Linked DNA regions of Homo sapiens. The main gene of each other region encodes a partner of the protein of the gene in region 2 in a complex. Each region holds a gene or a part of one and is shown on either strand. Other genes may lie near its edges. The genes, in order: LAMTOR2 and FNIP1.

Evidence for each region.
Region 1: FNIP1 (region 2) and LAMTOR2 share a complex: the UniProt entries of both Homo sapiens proteins name them as parts of the lysosomal folliculin complex.

The regions. Positions count from the first base shown.
Region 1 is NC_000001.11:156,053,298-156,057,581, reverse strand, and holds the start of LAMTOR2 (ragulator complex protein LAMTOR2), read right to left. Parts: upstream 2,801-4,284; 5' UTR 2,693-2,800; coding exon 2,625-2,692; intron 2,320-2,624; coding exon 2,157-2,319; intron 1-2,156. Other genes in the region: UBQLN4 (ubiquilin-4), read left to right, coding at 3,881-3,988. UniProt on the Homo sapiens protein: As part of the Ragulator complex it is involved in amino acid sensing and activation of mTORC1, a signaling complex promoting cell growth in response to growth factors, energy levels, and amino acids.
Region 2 is NC_000005.10:131,706,200-131,710,225, forward strand, and holds part of FNIP1 (folliculin-interacting protein 1), read right to left. Parts: intron 3,074-4,026; coding exon 3,002-3,073; intron 348-3,001; coding exon 212-347; intron 1-211. UniProt on the Homo sapiens protein: Binding partner of the GTPase-activating protein FLCN: involved in the cellular response to amino acid availability by regulating the non-canonical mTORC1 signaling cascade controlling the MiT/TFE factors TFEB and TFE3.

The DNA.
Region 1 (4,284 bases), on a different chromosome or scaffold from region 2:
CTGGTATTTCTCCTCTTTTCCCATGGTAATGTTTTTCAAATTGCAGATTTGACCCCACAGTTAGGAGATAAATTAAGAAGGTTGATCAGCATTAAAAACCAAAAAAGAAAAAATGAAGTATATTACATGTAGTAGGAAAAGTATTGTTTCATGACTTTTGTTTTAGTGGGTCTATGTGTGTGTTGAGCTCTGACTTAAAATGTCTTTCTTAAAAAATTTTTTCCTATTTATTTATTTATTAAAATTTTTTTTGTAGAGATGGGGTCTTATTAGGTCACCAAGGCTGGTCTTGAACTCCTGGCCTCAGATAATCCTCCAGCCTCAGCCTCCCAAAGTGTTGGGATTACAGGAGTGAGGCACTGTGCTCAGCCTTAAAATGTATTTCTTTTTTTTTTTTTTTTTTTGAGATGGAGTCTTGCTCTGTTGCCCAGGCTGGAGTGCAGTGGCGTGATCTCGGCTCACTGCAACCACTGCCTCCTGGGTTCAAGTGATTCTCCTGCCTCAGCCTCCTGAGTGGCTGGGATTACAGGCACGCACCACCATGCCCAGCTAATTTTTGTATTTTTAGTAGAGATGGGGTTTCACCATGTTGGCCAGGCTGGTCTTGAACACCTGACTTTGTGATCCGCCCGCCTCGGCCTCCCAAAGTGCTGGGATTACAGGCATGAGCCACCATGCCCAGCCCCTTAAAATGTATTTCTTATGGCTGGGTTGTGGTCAAAACGTTTGAAAGCTATTGCCCTATAGCACCAGCTCTAGGCATCCAGTAGGAGTCATATGTTGAACTAAAAATGGCATTGGTTGTGCAGGGGGTAGGGGAGAGTAGGCAGTTGAGTTACAATGAAGATCCTTCCTGGAGAGTTCACCTTCTGGCCAATTTGAAAAAAACAAAAGTAAGTTCAGCAAACTTTTACTAGGTATTTATTGTATGCCAGGAACCAAGCACTGCACTCCCTGCCTCTCTGACCTCATCTCCTACTACCCTCCTCCATCTCACGTAACTCCAGCCATACCAACCAACCCTGTTGATCCTTGAGCAGGCATAATTCTGCCTCAGGGCCTTGGTACTTGCTGTTCTGTCCAAAATATTCTTCCCTCAGATAACCACATGGCTTGTCCCCCACCTTTCTTCAGATCATTGATCAAATGTCACCTTTTCAGTGAGACTGTCCCTGACACATACACCCAACAAACTCATACTCTTTCACTTCCCTGCTTTCTCTCCATTGCATTTTCAATACCTAATATATACTATATATTTTACTTATTTTAAAAAATGTGGCCAGGCACAGTGACTCACGCCTGTAATCCCAGCACTTTGGGAGGCCAACGTGGGTAGATCGCTTGAGCCAGGAGTTTGAGACCAGCCTGGGCAACATGGCAAAACCCAGTCTCTGGAAAAATGCAAAAATTAGCGAGGTGTGGTGGTGCATGTCTGTAGTCCCGGCTACTCAGGAGGCTGGGGCAGGAGGATCACCTGAGCCCAGGGAGGTCGAGGCTGCAGTGAGCCGTGATTGTATCACTGTGTAAGATTTATTAGGGCTGGGGGTTTTGTCTTTCTGTTTGCTATTTTTTCCCTAGTCCTGAGAATACTGCAAGGACCTAAATACTTGTCGACCGAACAGATACTAAGAAGTTCACAATCTAATGGTGACTTCCCCTTTCTGGACTTCATTTTCCTTTCTTTGAAAGCTTAAGGGGTTGGACTAGGGTCTGGAGACTGCCATGGTTCTGTGAGTCGGTGAAACTGGGATGACAACACTTTGTGTTTGCACGTCATTCTACTGTTTATACCCATTATTTCATCTGACCTTCACAACAACCCATGAGGGGAGCGGGGAGAGGGAAATTATTGTCTTCTCCTTAAACATGAGGTAAGGAAGCTGAGAGAGGTTAAGCGACTTACCCAAGGTTCCACAACTGATAAGTGGATGGCTGAGACCAGAACCCAAGTCAGACCTCTCAGGTCCAGGGATCCTTCCTCACCACCACTTGATGAATAGGGTCCTGCCTATTACAAATGCTGCTGCAGACCAACTCTTAGTAATCTTCCGGAGATCCTGTCCCTGCCCCTCCAACCATCCAGGATGGGGTCCAGGTCGCCCCCTTGGGATCCCCTTTGGGGGACAGGGGAAGTCTGGCTCCCCTCTCCATACCATGCAGTCCATGAGGATGAATTTGAGATTGTCTTCATTAAACGCTTGGTTCCCGTTCCGGTCGTAGGCGGCCCAGATGTTACTGGCTATGGCAGCGGTGACCCGGGCGTCAGTGTCCCCGTAACCAGAGTAGGCCAGCAGTGATCCCTCGTTATTCAGCAGCCTGGTGAGGGGCGGGGAGGGATAGCGATGTGCTCAGAGCGGGGAGTAAAACGTCTGGGTTTCCATCCCAAGTCCCACCAAGGGCACATCCAGCAAGGCTCTGGCCTGAGCGTGTCCCGGAACATGCCCTAAGCACCCAGCACACCGGCTTCCCTTTTCGACAGGGGACCTCCCGGCCGGTATCCCCAGCCGCTGCCCCCTCTGCCGCTTCCTCCCTTCCTGGTGATCCTTCCCCACCCCTCCCTCAGGGAGCCGCGCGCCGCCCCACTGCAGCGCTCGCCGCTCGGGTCCGTGGTCTGCACTCACAGGGTGCTCTGGACGCCTCCAGTGTTGGCTTGGCTTAGCACCTGGGTCAAAGCCTTGGGGCGCAGCATGCCTACGGTTCCTAACCCTGGGCTTTTGCACCCAGATCTCCGAGGTGCCTCCCGCGGGCCGCTGCCCGCTGCTTCCCGTAGTCCCGTTGGCCTGCTCCGGGACGCCCTGGGAGTTGTAGTTTCTTCGCCTGGCTATTGTGGTTCCGACTCAACCCCGCCCCACCGCGGGGGGCTCTGGGAATCGTAGTTCTTTGTGGCCTCGCGAGGCACCCTGGGAATTATAGTTCGCCTTTCCAAGCCGACCACGCGGTTGTTGGGGGGCGGAAAAGAACGGGAGTGAAAGGACAGCAGCAGCGCTGGAAGGACATTTAACCCCTTCGGGGAGAAAGGAATCAACGTGTCCGCTTGGCAGTCCACGATTCAATAATTATACTACATCCTCATATTTGTCAGGCACGCCTTTGGTTACTTTCAAAACAGTTTTCTCCGTTATGCACAATTCTGTGCGATGAGGCGAGAGGTACTATTATTATTATCTTGAGGAAACCAAGGCTCTGAAAGGCCACGCAGCCAAAACCCAGCTCCCTGGAACCGTTCTTAATAGACCATTCAGGCCGCGACCCTCGGGGCTATAGGGTCAGTCCCAGAGCTGAGAACCTAGGTGGACGTGCTTGGTGGGAAAACCCAACCTCCAAGTCGGGAAAGTCCCCTGGCCTGGAAGGGACTTGGGCTTCCAAGAAAGACCAAGTTATCACAGGGAACGGAGATAAAGCGGCGACACAGAAAGTCCTTTGTCCCGGAGCCGAGTTAGCCGCGGAGGGGGCGGGGAGGCTTTGGGCTGGAGGGGACCGCGGCACGGCTCGGGCGGGCAGCGTTGGGTCGCGGTCTCCCGGGGCAGTCCGCCCTCGCCCCCGCAATGAAGGGCACGCCCCTTCCCCCTCCCAGAGGCCCCCCAGGGGCCCCCGCCTGGCGAGACCCTGGCCGGGCTCCGGACCTGGGGCTTGGCCCTGGGCGGACCCCGCTGCAGTGGCCCCCCCGGTCCGCCCGGGGCGCTGTGGCTGCGGCTGGTCCGGAGGGGGCGGTGAAGCCTCGGGGAGGGGAGGGGAGGAGAGAGGAGGGGAGGGGAGGGGAGGGGAGAGGTGGAGAGAGGGGAGTGTTGGAGGCGCAGAAGCCGAGCCGGGCCGGCCGGGCGGGCGGGGAGGAGGAGGAGCCGGGCGGGCTGGCGGGCGGCCGGGTGGCGGCGGCGGCATGGCGGAGCCGAGCGGGGCCGAGACGAGGCCCCCCATTCGGGTCACCGTCAAGACCCCCAAGGACAAGGAGGAAATTGTGATCTGCGATCGAGCCTCGGTCAAGGAGGTAGTACAGCAGGCGGGGGGCGGGGGGAGCGCGGAGGAGGGGTCTGCGAAGAGATGGGGGGCCTCTCTGACGGTCCGGCGTCCCGGAGGGCCCCGGAGAGGAGGGCGGGGGCCGGCTGGGACTCCGAGGAGCTGAAGGCAAGGAGAGGCGGGTAGGGGGCGCCCTGCGAGGGGAGATCTGGGGGAGCGTGGCGCGTGTTGAGGGGCGGGTTTTGCCTTGTGGCCTGGGGGCGTGGTGGAGAGTGAGGAGGGGACACCTTGCACCGGGAAGGGGGAAGGACCCTGGGTTTGAGGGGA
Region 2 (4,026 bases):
ACAAATGTCACTGAACTGTACACCTAAAAATGGTTAAAATTGTAACTTGTTATGTATAACTTACCACAATTTTAAAAATGTAGTAAATTTTAAAAGTTTTCAGTTTCAAACTTAAAATACACAGAATACAAGTCCAGGTTCTAAAAAACCCATATAAAATTGTGTTTAAGGAACTACTCAATCTTGTTCTGTGTTTAAAGTTCCAACTTACCATCTAGGAAATACCCCATTTTCCAAACTTGTTGTTTGGCTGCGTCGCCAACGTCGCTGGTAGCTGCTGGCACAACTTCGGGTAAGTGAGGAGTTTGGGGAAGGAAATGGAGTGATCAGCAAGCTGCTGAGAGATGCTGTTAAGTCAGAAGAACAACAAGTATAAGTCAATAATGACTAAGCATAATGACAAATTTCTTTTTAACAAAATTACAAATAGGTTAAGTTAAACTTTATTTTGCTTCATGAGCCTCAAAAATGTTCATTAAAAGAACACATCCTTCTTGTAGCAAGGTCTCAGAGGAGAAAAATCATATATTAACAATGTATCAGCAAAAAACTCTGAGACAATCCCCTTTTGGCATTCCCCTCTAGGGACTCCAGAAGAAAATTATACTTTGCAACAAGGCATTATCCCTTTGGCCACTGGATTGACTGTCCCCTAACTCAGTTGAATCCTTTTAGTTCTTAAATTAAAGGAAATCTGATGCTATTCAAACTTAATGCAGCAGCTGGATTTTAAGAACAAGCTATTGAAAATAAGTGTCTGAATGGCATTTAAAGAGGTCATTTACAAGTATTCATGGATCACATGTGCACATGTAGTCAAACCTACCACTTTTAATTAAGAATCATGACTATACCTACTAAGCTCCAAAAAAAGAATGCTCCCTGGAGCATCTAAGGTGACAAACACATTCCAGCAGACTCCACTCTTTCACGGCTGCAATCCCCTGATCTTGGGGATGGATTATTCCCTTCCCGAAACACTTCTGTGAAATCTGTAAGATATGTTTATTGCTTGAGGTGTTAAGAGCTACAACTGCTGATTTTTCATTAGGCTAGGAGATTTTCATCAGGCTTTTCCCCACTGGATTTAGAGAGGATAACACTTGCCATTAAGGGCTTGCTTTTGTTTGGCAATATTCCAGACTTCTATCTTTCATGATCATAAGCACATACTGAAAATGTATATTCAAAACAGGGAACCATTATCATCACTATTAAAAAGGTACAGGCCAGATGATAAATTATTTTGGACACCAGCACTAAAAACTGAGACACTTTCATTATGAAGATCTATTCATTTGAATTCTGACAAATTCAATGATAGAGGATAAAGCTGTATGTGCCATGCAAACATGTAGACCATCAATGAACTCATTCTAAATTACTTTAGAATGCAGATTCTAAATGCAGACCACATTTTATCAATTAGTATTATAAACTCTTGTAGTCCAAGATTGGGTATGTACAACTAAATCTGGGTATGACTTCAGTGAAAAATAAAATGCTGTCCTAAGTTTGGAAAAAATACATTTCACTGCATTCTAATATTAAAAATAACCCTATTAGAAAAAAAAGAAAACACACATTAACTTAAATGGCATATATGAATCCAATAACTTGAAGCAGCCTAACAGATCAGTCTAGCCAGATGCTTCAACTTACAAAGAATGTAAGTATAAATAAATTATACTTAAATCTTAAATAAAATAATGAGAATTAAATTCCTGCCAGGGAAGACTAAATATCTAGATTACATCGAAGCAAAGTTTATTAAAAGAAATAAACTCTAGATTCTTTAAAACAAAAATAAGAAACTCAATTAGAAAAGAAAGATGAGATTACTTGAAAAACACAAGCTACTCTTATTAGAGTAGTGGTCGGCAACCCTAGCTATCCATTAGAATCAAGTGTTAGGTTTTGCATTTTGTTTTGTTTCACAAATACAGATGCCTAGAGATACCTTCTCTAGGTTACACGAGAGTCTTTGAAAGTAGAGTTCAGGCACTTGAATTTTTTATAAAACTTCTCTTTGTTATTCTAATACATACCTAGGGATTGCAATATACAGCAAGTTTAGATTTTTCATTTATACTCAAAACTGAATTACAAAACAATTTCGATAGCAGAGCCATATAATGTAACAACACATGCTATCACACTGAATTAAGTTTCTCATATCTAACAGTAATTCAAGCCTAAAATTACTCCTCCTTTTACTTATGCTGCTCTCTGGGCCCCAACAAACACTTTTCCTTTTAGCTAAAATGCTTTTCTGAGCTTTTGCCTGGATAACTGCTATTTATTTCTCAAAATACAACTCAATCATCATCCTTCTGTAAAGCATTGTTGGCATCCCTGCCCCTTGCCCAGGCTAAGTGTGGTGCTCTTTCGCTGAAGCTTTTTGCGCAGGCCTATCACTAAATGCATCACACAATGACCTATGACAGATGATTTTCCTAATTTTTCTCCCAGTAGACTCCATACATCTGTGTTCCGTAAGGGCAGACTCTGGGCTTTAATTTTTTTAATGTCCACCATGTTTCAATAAATGTTTGCTAGACCTACAAATTTTGGACAGGTCCATATTTGGAAAAAAAAAAAAAGTATAACATTGATTCAAAATGCCTATGCTTTTCTGGGCAAGAGACAATATGACAATTTAAACTTTAGTTAGCAGCAAGCAAATATAAGCAAACGTGTTTTTTTTTTACTACAGTTTCTAAGCAGTTTTTCTGACCAATGCTTTTCTTCTTATATTCACTAAGCTTCAACCAGTGTACTTTACTCTGGCTTTACTTCATCCTGGCTTTATCCTACTTAGCACACTTAAAAGTAAACATGAAAAATATTAAATTTATAAGACTTTGCTCTGGTCTTTTCACAGTTCTCTTGTAAGGCTAATATCAATATGAACAAATTTGATAATAAAGGGAGGGATAAAAAAGAAAATCAATGCCAACAGTAATCTCATAAAAAACTGAATACAAGAACGTGACATTACCAGACCGTGCTATGCCACTGTCTCTGTCCTCATTGAGCTCTCTTCCAGGCATGTCCATTGGGTTGCTGTGAACTATAAATAAAGATGAAACTGTCAGTTATAAAATATATTGCTATTCAGGTGGATGAACAGCTCCTTTTAAATAGCAAACGAAATCATGCTCATCTCATTGCATTCCCTTATTTTTTTCAATAGCATGGCACCAACCCAACACCAAGAGCTATTACTCAGTTGAACAAGCTTTGAGAGCTCTGTGAAGATTTGATACACAGTATAAGAATCTAAAACATAATATCTAAAGAAGCAAGGAGTGACTAAAAGTCATATTTTGGAAGCATATTCAGTGACATATTTATAATATACTATTAAATGAAAAAAAGCAAGCTACTGAACAGTATGAGTGCTTGCTGGGACCAAGTGGTGGGTATATCATAGTTCACTGTACTGTTTCTGCCTATAACAATGTATGTTTCAAAATTCTCTATAATAAATTGAGATATTTATTTGAATAGTATGATCCCCATTTTCTTTAAAAAACAAAAAAGCAGGTATTTCTGGCTGATAAAATGGCTAATATATATTTTTGCCTTTTAAAAGTGTTTTCCAAGTTTTCTACAAATATATATTTTTTATATCTAATATTTACAGGGAAAGAAAATATTAATCAAAACAAGAAGGGCTAAATTGATACCAATCTGAGAACAATGAAGAGTAAATGTGTTCACATTCCAGTAATTTCCACTAAAAGGTTACAATGTTAGGTAATCCGCTAAAATGTGTGAAAACAAGGAATATGATTAGAATCCTGGATATATACACATGAACATACTCTACAATCATCAACTTGATTATGTAAGCAAATATAGTCATATATGCCTTTTACAGAGCATTATAGTAGTGCTTGTTCATCTAAATCTTAGCTCCAAGAAAAACTGCTCTTATGGAATAGTGTAGATCAGAAATTTTACAATAATAACAAGATAGGATAATTTTCTGCAATTGGTGAACTATGGTACAAAAGCTAC